Homo sapiens: one gene and its partners. The protein of the gene in region 4 purifies or fractionates together with the protein of the main gene of each other region. This does not show direct contact. Each region holds a gene or a part of one and is shown on either strand. Other genes may lie near its edges. The genes, in order: RGPD8, RGPD1, CDCA2 and NPIPB6.

Evidence for each region.
Region 1: the proteins of NPIPB6 (region 4) and RGPD8 purify together in Homo sapiens (affinity purification with mass spectrometry; one large-scale study listed by BioGRID and IntAct). This does not show direct contact.
Region 2: the proteins of NPIPB6 (region 4) and RGPD1 purify together in Homo sapiens (affinity purification with mass spectrometry; one large-scale study listed by BioGRID and IntAct). This does not show direct contact.
Region 3: the proteins of NPIPB6 (region 4) and CDCA2 purify together in Homo sapiens (affinity purification with mass spectrometry; one large-scale study listed by BioGRID and IntAct). This does not show direct contact.

The regions. Positions count from the first base shown.
Region 1 is NC_000002.12:112,423,582-112,427,153, reverse strand, and holds part of RGPD8 (RANBP2-like and GRIP domain-containing protein 8), read left to right. Parts: intron 1-2,846; coding exon 2,847-2,914; intron 2,915-3,572.
Region 2 is NC_000002.12:87,008,062-87,011,312, forward strand, and holds part of RGPD1 (RANBP2-like and GRIP domain-containing protein 1), read left to right. Parts: intron 1-2,162; exon of another isoform or gene 2,163-3,251.
Region 3 is NC_000008.11:25,483,207-25,486,778, forward strand, and holds part of CDCA2 (cell division cycle-associated protein 2), read left to right. Parts: intron 1-192; coding exon 193-280; intron 281-759; coding exon 760-1,004; intron 1,005-2,552; coding exon 2,553-2,631; intron 2,632-3,572. UniProt on the Homo sapiens protein: Regulator of chromosome structure during mitosis required for condensin-depleted chromosomes to retain their compact architecture through anaphase.
Region 4 is NC_000016.10:28,346,447-28,350,018, reverse strand, and holds part of NPIPB6 (nuclear pore complex-interacting protein family member B6), read left to right. Parts: intron 1-777; coding exon 778-877; intron 878-989; coding exon 990-1,185; intron 1,186-3,572.

The DNA of each region.
Region 1 (3,572 bases), on a different chromosome or scaffold from region 4:
TCTATTATGTTTTGGCATTGTACCTTGAATCTATTTCTTCATTTTGAAAAGGGGGAACTGGCCGGGCTCGGTGGCTGATGCCTGTAATCCCAGCACTTTGGGAGGCGGAAGAAGTCAGATCACAAGGTCGAGAGATCGACACCATCTTGGCCAACATGGTGAAACCCCATCTCTACTGAAAATACAAAAATTAGCTGGGCATGGTGGCGTGCGCCTGTAGTCCCAGCTTGTACCCGGGACGCAGAGGTTGCAGTGAGCTGAGATCGAGCCACCGCACTCCAGCCTGGCGACAGAGCAAGACTCCATCTCAAAAAAAAAAAAAAAAAGGAAGGGGGGAACAGGACTTGTTCCTTTATGTGCTGTCCTGACTGTTGTGTATTATTTTTGTTAAGATTGCTATAGTTCTTTTTTTTTTTGAGACGGAGTCTTGCTCTGTCGCCAGTGCTGGGATTGCAGGTGTTAGCCTGGCATTGAGCAAGGTTTTGTAATTTAAGCATACAAGTCTCTCACCTCCTTGTTTACATTTATTCCCAGGCATTTTTTTCTTTTAGATGCGATTGTAAATGGAATTGCTTTCTTAATTTCATTTTCTGATTGTTCGTTGCTGGTACAGTAGTCCCTTCTTATCCACAGTATTGCCTTACGTGGTTTTACTTACCTGCGTCACCCGTGGTCCAAAAATATTGAATGGAAGATTATATAAATAAACATTTCATGAGTTTTAAATTGCAAACAGGTCTGAATAACATGATAAAAATCTCACGGCCTCCTGCTCCGTCCTACCCAGGACACGAATCATCCCTTTGTCCAACATATTCATGCTGTATGTGCTCCCCACCCGCTAGTTACATACTAGCCACCTCAGTTATCAGATCAGTTGTTGGAGTATTGCAGTGCTTGTGTTCAAGTGACCTTTATTTTATTTAAAATGGCACCAAAGAGCAAGAATAGCGATGCTGGCAGTTCACATATGCCAGAGAGAAGCCATATAGTGCTTCCTTTAAGTGAAGAGGTGAGTTTTTGACTTAGGAAAGAAAAAAGATCATATACTGGGGTTGCTGAGATCTATGGTAAGAACAAATCTTTTGTCCATGAAATTGTGAAGAAGGAAAAAGAAATTTGTGCTAGTTTTGTTGTGACACCCCAAACTGCAAAAGTTACAGCCACAGTGTGTGATAAGTGCTTAGTTGAGATGGACAAGACATTAAATTTGTGGGTGGAGGACACAAACAGGAAACATGTTTCGATTGATGGCAACCTGGTTTGGTACTATTCATCGTTTTGGACATTCACTGGGGTCTTGGAATTTCAAAAATAAGATGTTTGAGTAGCTGTATACTCTATCACATGGATGGAACATACTCTGGTTGTATCAGCATTTTTTTTTTTTTTTTTTTGAGATGGAATCATTCTGTTGCCCAGGTTGGAGTTCAGTGGTGCGATCTTGGCCCACTGCAGCCTCTGCCTCCCGGGTTCAAGTGATTCTTTGCCTCAGCCTCCCAAGCAGCGGGGATTACAGGCGTGTGCCACCATGCCCAGCTAATTTTTGTATTTTTAGTAGAAAGGAGGTTTCTGTATGTTGGCCAGGCTGGTCTCGAACTCTTGGCTTCAAGTGATCCACCCGCCTCAGTCTCCGAAAGTGCTGGGATTACAGGTGTGAGCCACCGCACCCAGCCTGGTGTGCATCAGCATTTTGGACTTTGGAGTTTATGTAACCAAGGATCCAGGCTGTGGACCTCGTTTATTACTTGAAGAATTCAATATTTATTTCTGCCTTTTTGACTCCTTGACTGTAAAATACTGATCTGATCTGTAGAGAGAACAGTACATGGACCCGGGAATCCTCAGTGCCTTAATAGATCCTAAGTACTTATTTATTCTTTCCCATAGAGGCTTACACATGGTAGGAGAAGAGATTTCTGGAATACCTTTCCTCCCCAAAGAAAGCTGGTTTCTTTTGTTTGTTAAGTGAGAGAGTGGTACCACAGGGTTTCCGAGATTTCCAAGGCTGATGAAAATTCTTAACTTCTGTTGTCTGCTTGTCTTGCTTTCTTGAATTTATTTTTTGTATGTTATGTATTTATTATTTAGAGAGAGGATCTCCCTGTGTCACCCAGGCTGGAGTGCAGTGTCACAGTCATAACTCACGGCAGTGTCAACCTCCTGGGCTCAAGTGATTCTCCTTCCTTGGCCTCCTGAGTAGCTAGGAACACAGGCATGCTCCACTATGCCTGGCTATTTTTTTCCCCCTGGAGACAGGATCTTGTTGTGTTGCACAGGCTGGTTTCAAACTCTTGGCCTCAAAGCTAGCCTCCCACCTTGGTCTCTGAAAGTGCTAGAATTAAATAGAATTAAAGGTGTGACCAACTGCACCCAGCTTATTTATGATGATGATGATGATGATGATGATGATGATGTTTGGGAGATGGAGTCTCTGTCGCCCAGGCTGGAGTGCAATGGCACGATCTCAGCTGACTGCAACCTCTGGCTCACTGCAACCTCCACCTCCTGGGTTCAACTGATTTTTGTGCCTTAGCCTCCTGAGTAGCTGGGATTACAGGCACCCGCCATCATGCCTGGCTAATTTTTCTATTTTTGTAGAGACGGGGTTTCACCATGTTAGCCAGGCTGGTCTCAAACTCCTGACCTCAGGTGATCCGCCCACTTCGGCCTCCCAAAGTGCTGGGATTACAGGCATGAGCCGCTGCACCCAGCTCTATTTTTTGTTTTGTGGTAGGAAATTATAAAACATGGAATTATGCATTTGTCAGGCTTTAACTACTTTTGAAAAAATGTTGGAAAATATTTCTGTATGAAACATAAAACAACTTTTAATTTTTTTTTAGAAGTCAATGAAAGGATTCTATTTTGCAAAGCTGTATTATGAAGCTAAAGAATATGATCTTGCTAAAAAGTAAGTACAAACCGTAACATGTATTCTTTTTTTTAAAATCAATGCCTTTTCTCATTTTCTTCTTTGAAATAGGTAAAAATATGTTCTTAGTAGTTCTTCCTAAGTGTATTCTGGAATAAGGGATTTATCACTCAGACTGATGCTAAGGACCAGCCTAGATTCCATTGAGATTGAAACTGCAATTAGTGTTTTCTGCATGCTGCTGCTTTATACCAAGGGCAAGAAATTGTTTGGCTTAAAACACTTTTTCTAAAAATTGTCTTCTGTTGGAGTAAAAGAGGACCATGCCTATATCTTAATTTGTTTTTGGTTAGATATCTGATACCTTAATCAGATGGAAAATAGCAATGAATAAAAAACTAAACTGTAATTGTAAGGCAGGAGAATAGCTTGTATAAAAGATCTTTAATTGACACAATATGTGATGCTGTAAGGCTCTATCCTAGGGATAAGAAGCTTGGTGATTCTGATTTCCTGGCTGGGAGTGGATTAAAGCAGGAAATTAAGAGGGAGGCAGGCTTTTTTTTTTTTTTAGGCAGTATCTGTCTCTCTTGCTCCGGCTGGAGTGCAGCAGCTGGCTCCATCTTTGCTCACTGTAACCTCTGCCTTCTGGGCTCAAGCGATCTTCCCACCTCAGCGCCCCAAGTAGCTGGGGATA
Region 2 (3,251 bases), on a different chromosome or scaffold from region 4:
CAGCATTCTCACACCCCTTGCATAGCTACCCCCAATGTTAACATAACTGTTAACAAATTATCAAAACTAAGAAATTCGTCTTGGTATAGTATCACTAACTAAACTCCAGACCTCAGTCAGGTTTTCCCAGTCTTTCCTTCAGTGTCCTTCCTCTGTTTCAGGATTCAATCCATGATCCTTGACACTTGGTACTTTGTCAGATGTCCCGCTGTATGGGTTTGTTTGATGTTTTCCCATGATTAGGGATAGACACTGCAAGACTCAGAGCTACTTTACAAAGAAGCCTCTAGGGAGCTCCCCAGAGAAGACAGGGGAGACAACACAAGGACACTAGAGGAAATTTTAGCCTCTGACATCCATGACTATATAGCAAAGAGTAAACAAAGCCTAACTCCTAGCCAGAGAAACACAAAATCTCATACTAAAGCCTTATTTAACTCAGTTCGTTTCACCCAGTACATCATATACAGCCTCAAACAAAAAATTACAAAGCATACTAAAAGACAAGAAACCCCACAGTTTGAAGAGACAGAGCAAGCATCAGAACCAGACTCAGATATGAAAGAAATATCGGAAGTATCCAACCAGGAATTTAAAATAACTAAGATTAACATGCTAGGGGCTCTAATGTAAAAATGGCATAACATGCAAGAACAGATGGGTAATGTAAGCAAAGAGATAAAAACACTAAGAAGAAATAAAGATGAAATACTAGAAATAAAAAACACCATAACAGAAATGAAGAATGCCTTTGATGGGTTCATCAAAAGAATGGATATGGCCAATGAAAGAATCAGTGAGCTCAAAGAGATGTCAATAGATACTTCAAAAGCTGACACACAATGAGAGAAAAGAATGAAAAAGAAAAAACAGAACAAGAGTCAAGAACTGTGAGACAATTACAAAAGGTGGAACATGGAGACTTTTTGGAAATACCAGAAAGAGAAGAAAAAGAGAAAGAAAGCCAGGCATGGTGGCTTACGCCTATAATGCCAGCAATTTGGGAGGCCGAGGCGGGCAGATCGCAAGGTCAGGAGATCGAGACCATCCTGGCTAACACGGTGAAACCCTGTCTCTACTAAAAATACAAAAAATTAGCGGGGCGTGGTGGCAGGCGCCTGTAGTCCCAGCTACTCGGGAGACTGAGGCAGGAGAATGGCATGAACCTGGGAGGAGGAGCTTGCAGTGAGCTGAGATCGTGCCACTGCACTCCAGCCTGGGCAACAGAGCAAGACTCTGTCTCAAAAAAAAAAAAAAAAAAGAGAAAGAAACAGAAGAAACATTTGAAGCAACAGTGACTGAAAATTCCCCCAAATTCATGATAGATAAAGCTATGGTCTGAATGTTTGTGTCTCCTCAAAAGTTATATTGAAACTTAATCCTCAATGTGATAGTACTGAGGTGGGGCTTTTGGGAGTCAATCAGGTTACGAGGGCTCTACCCTCAGGACAGAGATTAGTGCACTTATGAAAGAAGCCCCAGGGAATTAGCTAGCCCCTGACACCATGTGAGGACAAAGCCAGAATGTGTCATCTATGAGGAAGCAGGGCCTCACCAGACACTGCTAGTGCCTTGGTCTTGGACATCACAGCCCCTAGAACGGTGAGAAATAAATTTCTGTTGTTTATAAACTCTCCAGTTTATGATATTTTTGTCACAGCAGCCCAAATGAACTAAGGTAGACATAAAGGAACAGATCCAGGAAGCTCAAAATACATCATTTCAATAATGATCTTTAAAACTTTGTTTGAAATTATACTGATCATTCCGCTGACTGCTGAATGACCTGGCACCGTCTCAGGGTTTTAGTCTGGAGTTTTTGTTTATGCTCATGGCCTCACGGAGAACAATATTCACCTGAAGTGACGGCGCTTCTCTTTTTATGTTGTTGAGAAGCATGATTGGCTCTTTTTTTGCAAAATTATTCACAAACTTAAACTTTGATTCAGAATTATTGAAGTAACATGGTGAGGCAGAGTAATATGTGACTTAAATTTTATGGAGTACTAAGGAAAACGGGCAGACTTAATATAAAAGTGGTGCATTGGTGGTGCTTAAGGGCAAATACCGATAACATGGTGTACAAATAAAGGATCCCGATGATTCAAACAGGTGGAAGTGATGGGAGAACTGAGTTGTCACACAGTACCATATCCACACTGTCACACAAATCTCACCTTTATTTATTCCCTTTTGCACTAACGTAGCCAGAAATGTGAAACGATGACAGTTTTTTCAGTAGGTATTTTTTTTTTTTAGTTTTTATCATTGACCTTTGAGGTGCACTATTAAATTGCTCAGTCCATTAAAATAACGGATTGCTGATTTAAAAACTGGTTCCTTGCTTAGCTTCAGCAAAACAGCAAAGTCTACCACATTAAATGTATATTGTTTATTTGATTTTTATTGACTTTGTTGTCTTATTTTAACTACTTAATTGCAAATCTGTCTTGGGGTTAACACTGTGTAAGAGTTTTAAGCATAAGAAGTCTGTACTTAGAGTTTAGATGTAGTTTTATATTTGTACATGTTGATGTAACATTTTAATAATAATAATTCAGGTCTGCTGGGCATGGTGGCTCATGCCTGTAATCCCAGCACTTTGGGAGGCTGAGGCGGGCGGCTCACCTGAGGTCGAGAGTTCAAGACCAGCCTGACCAACATGGAGAAACCCTGTCTCTACTAAAAATGTAAAATTAGCCAGGCATGGTGGCACATGCATGTAATTCCAGCTACTTGGGAGGCTGAGGTAGGAGAATCGCTTGAACCCGGAGGCGGAGGTTGTGGTGAGCTGAGATCGCACCATTGCACTCTAGCCTGGGCAATGAGAGCAAAATTCTGTCTCAGAAAAAAAAAAAAAATCAGGTTAATTCTGGGATCTGAGCAAAGTTTTGCTCCTTTCCGAGAGGTGAACACGTTACGCAATTATTAATAATATCCCTGTGGGAAGGGGCTTTACAACAAATTATTTTACAGGTGAAGGGCAGAAATGAAAACATTTTCTAGAGCCACTCCTGCCCTTCACACTCAGGAATGTCGCAGTAGTCATCTCTCTGTTCTGGATCAGTAGTATAGCACCAGGGCCCCTGCGCATCGTTGTCTGGATTCCTCCAGTCCCTCTGAGGGGTGTGTAGCAGGTGAGAATCTGGGGAGGATGGAAGAGAAGCACTTAGACTATATTCTAAAAATCAGCTTGCTATTAGCAAGGCAGAAGGAGATGCTCTCGATTCCCATCTGAGATTGTCATCCAA
Region 3 (3,572 bases), on a different chromosome or scaffold from region 4:
TCTAGGGGACATAGTTATGATTTGTGCCTGATATCATGGTTTTGAGCCAGAACAATTATTGAAAATAAAGGTAATCTTTAATACTGGAATATCTATCTGCAGTTGACAGAGAATTTCAAAACTGCTGTTCTTAATGATGACGTCTATGTATTTCTATATGTAAAATTATTCATTAATGTTTATTCTGTTTAGGAACACTGTAACAACCTCTATGATGATGATGGGACTCATCCGAGCTTAATCTCAAATCTCCCAAACTGTTGCAAAGAGAAAGAAGCAGGTAAGAAATTCATACTTGTTTTTAAGCTTGAGGATATCATTTTCATGTTAGTAAAACCTAGTATAATATATGAAATTTTCAATGATCTATAATGCCTTAGTGCTTCTGAAATAACACGTGAATGAAGAACAGTTGAGAAGGTTAGAATCTCCTTGGAGAGCCTCAGAATTGGTCTGTCCATTTCATGGATCCATTTTTACTTAGTGGTGGTATTTGTAAAGAAAATTTATATTTCAATTTTATTAACGTTTAATATGCAAATTTTTACTTGGAAATCTGTTGCCATATTTTAATTGGAAATGTGCTTATCTTCTCCATTTTGAATTTGCTCTACCAACAATTATTTTATAGCTTTGCTTTACTAGCTATTATACAAATAATAGCTGAATATTATCACATTAAAAGATTCTAGTATATGCCTTTTAGATAAGAAATATAGCTTAATTTTTAAGTTACTCTCATTTATTGTCTAATTATAGAAGATGAAGAAAATTTTGAAGCACCTGCCTTTCTAAATATGAGGAAGAGGAAGAGAGTTACTTTTGGAGAGGACTTAAGCCCGGAAGTGTTTGATGAATCTTTGCCAGCAAATACTCCATTGCGTAAAGGAGGAACACCTGTTTGTAAAAAAGACTTCAGTGGTCTCAGTTCCCTGCTGCTTGAGCAGTCACCTGTTCCTGAGCCATTACCTCAACCAGATTTTGATGACAAGGGGGAGAATCTTGTAAGTATGAAAAGCGTGGAACAAGCTTGCCATATGTATTTTCATCAGGCTTCACCTGCTTTGCATGAGCAATAACTATGCTTTGAAATAATGAGATAGACTAAATGATATGCCATGGTTTAAATTAATCTATTTTGTATGTAGGTTTTTATGAGTTTTTGCCCATTACAAATAATACTTCCCTGACTCCTTGTACATATTGAACAGATTTATGCCAATGAATTTAACAACTTAGGTAAACTGGATACATTCCTTAGAAGACACAAATTACCAAAACTCACTAAAGGTGAAATAAATTACCTCATTATCCCTATATCAACTTAAGATATTTAAATTTTAGTTAAAACCTTCCCACAGAGAAAACTCTAGGTATAGATGATTTTTTTTTTTTTTTTTTTTGAGATAGGGTCTTACTCTGTCACCCAAGCTGGAGTGCAGTGGTGCGGTCATGGCTCACTGCAGCCTCAACCTCCCAGGCTCAAGCTATCCTCCCATATCCTCCCGTCTTAGCCTCCCGAGTAGCTGGGACATGGGCACACATCACCATGCCTGGCTAGTTTTTGATGATTTTACTGATGAATACTACCAAACACTTGAGCAAGTTAAAATACTAATTCTACACAAGTGTTTCCACAAATTGAAGGGGTAGGTTAATTGATGTCAGCATTGTGATTTCAGCATTAACCTGGTGCAAAATCAGACAGGCATTATAAGAGAAGAAAACTACAGTTCAGTATCCTTGTAAACATAGCAATATATAAAAAGATAATACATCATAACCATGTGAGATTTAGCCTTGGGCTGCAAAGCCATTTAATGTTTGAAAAACAATCAGTGTAATCTGCCTTGTTAAAAGACTAAGACAGAAATACGATCATCTGAGTAGTTGCAGAAAAAGCAGCACACCAACATGGCACGTGTATACATAACAAACCTGCATGTTGTGCACATGCACCCTAAAACTTAAAGTATAATAATAATAATAATAATAATAATAATAAAGAAAAAGCATTTAACAAAATATAGTATCCACTTCTCATTTAAAAAATAAAACCTCTGAGCAAAATGGTAATAAAAGAATTTCTTCAAATTGACTAATGTCTATGCAAAACCAACAGTTAATGTCTTACCAACAATTATGTGGAAAAGATTTGCTATCTGTATTTATATTGCCATCTTACTCTGGAGTTCCCTGAATAACATTATAACGTTAGATTGTGTTTATGAATGAATTTTTAAATTTTCTTTATAGGAGTTAGAAATTTAGCAGTAGATCATTATGTGTACTTTCGCTTATAAATTTTCTTAGTAGTTTGATGGATTGCAGTTAGTAAGCATTTCATTGCAAACATGATTGGTAAATGGTATACATATATTTTTCTATTCAATATCTTTGTTTTGCTTTGAATTTTAGAATCTTTTATTGATTACCCATCTTTATGCTTATTATAGTTTCTCCTACCAAAATAAATTCTTACTCTTCTTTTGGGCACATTATGTATTCACTGCATTTAAAGATATCTAACTTCTGTCTTTTCCTTTGTTTAGGAAAACATAGAACCACTTCAAGTATCATTTGCCGTTCTCAGTTCTCCTAATAAATCATCAATCTCTGAGACCCTTTCAGGTAGTAACTTGTTTATCTTAAAATCATAAATGTCATTTTTTATATGTGTATATGTTGATTATTTTTGTTTTCTTTTAAAAATTTCATATTTGTTACCACAACATATACTTGGTTTAAAAACACCTAATAGTATTGGGAAGCTGACATGAAGCTATTCATCCATCCCTTTTCCATTCCAAGCCTCATACTTCATAATCACCCAGAATTTACTTCCTCAGATGGAATCCCCATTTTGTTAGTTGCTAGAAGCAATGGAGTTAGCCTCTCAACTCTTAAGTATCAATGACAAACTGCTATTCACAGTTTACAGAATTGACATCTGGATTGTAAGGATCATTCTTAAATATCCAGACTTTTTCCTCAACATTCATTGTGGCGTTTTTAGCACATGTGCTTTCCAAGGTCTCTGGATTTTTTATGATTATGACAAAGCAACAGATTGCTCCCAGCTTTTCTGACAAACCAGGACTTAGCTGGCAGGTGTCATGGGCCAGGCACCTTTATTCAGGTGTCTTCCCTGGCGGAAACCCCTTAATGGCTTCTTGTTGACACAAACCAAACCTAGTAGACTCCAAGCCATGTGTTACTAAGTTAGAGCTAAAATTTGAATCACAGTCTATCACATTCCAAAGGCCATACCCTTAAACATATTATACCACCTTTCATTTATATCATTAAAAGTCTGCCAGGTGCGGTGGCTCATGCCTGTAATCCCTTTACTTTGGGAGGCTAAGGCAGGCAGATCACTTGAGGTCAGGAGTTCAAGACCAGCCTGGTCAACTTGGTGAAACCTGGTCTCTACTGAAAATACAAAAAAAAAAAAAAAAATTAGCCAGGCATGGTAGCGGGTGCCTATAATCTCAGCTACTCAGGAGGCTGAGGCAGAAGAATCACTTGAACCGGGGAGACGGAGGTTGCAGTGAGCTGAGATTGCACCACTG
Region 4 (3,572 bases):
CACCATGTTGCCCAGGATGGTCTCCATCTCTTGACCTTGTGATTCACCCGCCTCAGCCTCCCAAAGTGCTGGGATTACAGGCGTGAGCTACCGCACCTGGGCTCTTTTTTTTTTTTTTTTTTTTTTTTTGAGACAGAGTTTCAATTTTGTTGCCCAGGTTTGGAGTGCAATGGCACAATCTCAGCTCACCACAACCTTTTCCTGCTGGGTTCAAGTGATTCTCCTGCCTCAGCCTCCTGACTAGCTGGGACTACAGGCATGCACCACCATGCCTGGTTAATTTTGTATTTTTAGCAGAGACAGCGTTTCTCCATGTTGGTGAGGCTGGTCTCAAACTCCCGACCTCAGGTGATCCGCCTGCCTCGGCCTCCCAAAGTGCTGGGATTACAGGAGTGAGCCACCGTGCCAGCCTCATGTCATTCTTGTGTGTGTGTGTGTGTGTGTGTGTGTGTGTGTGTGTGTGTGTGTGTGACAGAGTCTCATTCTGTCGCTCAGGCTGGAGTGCAGTGGTGTGATCTCGGCTCACTGCAACCTCCGCCTCCCAGCTTCAAATGGTTCTCTGCCTCAGCCTCCCGAGTAGCTTGGATTACAGGCGCCCGCTGCCATGCCTGGCTAATTTTTGTATTTTTAGTAGAGACAGGGTTTCACCATCTTGGCCAGGCTGGTCTTGAACTCCTGACCCCGTGATCCACCTGCCTCGGCCTCCCAAAGTACTGGGATTATTTATACGCATGAGCCACCGTGCCCAGCCGTCATTCTTATATTATTATTTCCTAGGTGTCTTTCCTGAAGACTATCTTCTGGTCTCGAAATGGACATGATGGATCCATGGATGTACAGCAGAGAGCCTGGAGGTCCAACCGCAGTAGACAGAAAGGTATGGCTCTGTTGGAGTCCCCATAGTGTGGAAATGAGTTTGCCCTGGAAAGGGAAAGAACAGCTTCTTGACCTCAGGTTTCTCACCTTCTCCTCTCCTCACTCTCACCAAGGGCTGAGGTCCATTTGTATGCACACAAAGAAAAGAGTTTCTTCCTTTCGAGGAAATAAAATTGGCCTGAAAGACGTCATTACTCTACGGAGGCATGTGGAAACAAAAGTTAGAGCTAAAATCCGTAAGAGGAAGGTGACAACGAAAATCAACCGTCATGACAAAATCAATGGAAAGAGGAAGACCGCCAGAAAACAGTAAGATGTGCCTTGACACAAATACTGTTGTATGAACCATGTGCCAATCAAAGTAGACAACTGTAAAGTCCTTGAGAATATTTTCTACAATATTTGTGGCAAATTCAGTGGGCTCAAAATTGAGTTTGTCCTTTCTGCTTCATTAGTTTAAGCTGTATAATTCCTTTCCCTTCCTACATTCTTGTTTGTAATTTTTTCGGGGGAAGAGGAGTTGCTAGTACTGGCATTGGTTTTCCTTTCTCTCTCTCTTTTTTTTTTTCCTGAGATGGAGCTTTGCTGTTGTTGCCCAGGCTGTAGTGCAATGGCACAATCTCAGCTCACTGCCTTTTGGCTTCAAGCAATTCTCCTGCCTCAGCCTCCCAAGTAGCTGGGATTACAGGTGCCCACCACCACGCCCAGCTAATTTTTGTATTTTTACTAGAGATGGGGTTTCACCATGTTGTCCAGGCTGGTCTCGAACTTCTGACCTCAGGTAATCCACCTGCCTCAGCCTCCCAAAGTGCTGGGATTAGAGGTGTGAGCCACCACACCCAGCCTTTTTTTTTTTTTTTTAAAATTTTGAGATAGAATCTCGCTCTGTCGCCCTGGCTGGAGTGCTATGGTGCAATCTTGGCTCACTGCAACCTCTGCCTCCCAGTTTGAAGCAATTCTGCCTCAGCTTCCTGAGTAGCTTGGATTACAGGTGTGTGCCACCACATTCGGCCAATTTTTTTTTTTTTTTTTTGAGACAGAGTCTCACTCTGTCACCCAGGCTAGAGTGCAGTGGCATGATCTTGGCTCACTGCAACCTCCACCTCCCAGGTTCAAGTGATTCTTATCCCTCAGCCTCTTGAGTAGCTGGGACTACAGGCATATGCCACCATGCCCGGATAATTTTTGTATTCTTAGTAGAGGCGGGGTTTCACCATATTGGCCAAGCTGGTCTAGAACTCTGGACATCATGATCCACACACCTCGGCCTCCCAATGTGCTGGGATTACAGGCGTGAGCCACCGTGCCCGGCCCAATTTTTGTATTTTTAGTAGAGACAGGGGTTCACCATGTTGGCCAGGCTAGTCTTGAACTCCTGACCTCAGGTGATCTGCCTACCTCAGCCTCCCAGTGTGAGCCACCGCACCCAGCCTGGATTGTTGAATTCAATGCTTGGGTCACCTCCAGATTCATTTTCACAGTCTTTCATGTTTTGGTCATATTACATTGTATTTTGCTGCCATATGACTGAGCTCTTTTTGTTAAATGTGAGATACTTGTTAAAAAATATTTAGCAATGAATTGAGGCCTAGTGGCATGTTATCTTGCTGCAGAAGAGATGGGAGTCTACTTCTGGGGGATGGTCACGGGTCCTCCATACAGGCTGCAATTGAGGTCGTCGGTGCAGGCTCAGTCCCTACAAAGGCCAGGGTATTTCCTGTCCACCTCTATTCTGATGCATGACTCTTCTGGGTCTCAACCAGAGCCAGTGGACTTCAGTACGGGTCGCTTTCATTGGCAGACCCTCAATCCACTTGTTTTCCATCTAATCCCACGCATGTGTGCAAAAGCTGCTGTGCTTCTTTACATCTCAGTAGTTCCTTCTGGAATTCAGCAATGAAACTCAGGGAAATGGGTTCCAAATGCGAGGCTGACTTTCGTCCTGGGTTTCCTTCTTCTCCATCTTCACCTCATGTCTGTTTACTGCCATGTTAGCAATTTGATGTATTCAATCATGGGTTTTATATTCTGTTTGGTGTCCCCCATTGTTCTCATCGGAGATCAGAAGCTTCAGATGCACTTATGTCAACTCAAGAGTAGAATGCTTCCTTAGCTTCCCTCCAGAGTCAGGTTTTGTGTTTCTAGTTCCCAAGTGGACAGCAGGAGTAGTGATGTCCTCACTGGCTTCTCATTTGCATTAAGCTGTGAGCTTCTTTACCGTGGGGACAGGACCCTGCTCCCATTGCATTCTCAGCACCACACCACACACTCCTTGTTGGAGGCCACTCCAGACAGCATGTGCTGAAGGATGCCCTGTGGTCAGAAACAAGTTCATTAACTTTCTCTTTGAAGTGTTTTCGCCCCTGTTTCCTAGCGTTCTGGGAATTTTACACATCCTTCCTATAAAACCAAGTATCAGGTGAGATCCTTAGGATCAGGACCATGAATCAAGTGGTGTGAGGGCAACACAGCAAACTTACCCTTTTTAGGCCATTTCCTTTTTCTGCCCTCAATGTCTGTGAACTGAACCTTGTTAAAGTCAGTCAACACCAGGGTGGATGGTTTGCCGTTGTCACCTATTTTCAGGACATAACACCCTGACTTAGGAGCCATTCCGATCATTTCTAATTCAATAGATGCGCCCAGCATTCAGATTGCCTTTTCTCTCAACCAGGATCTTTAAAGTCGATGACAAG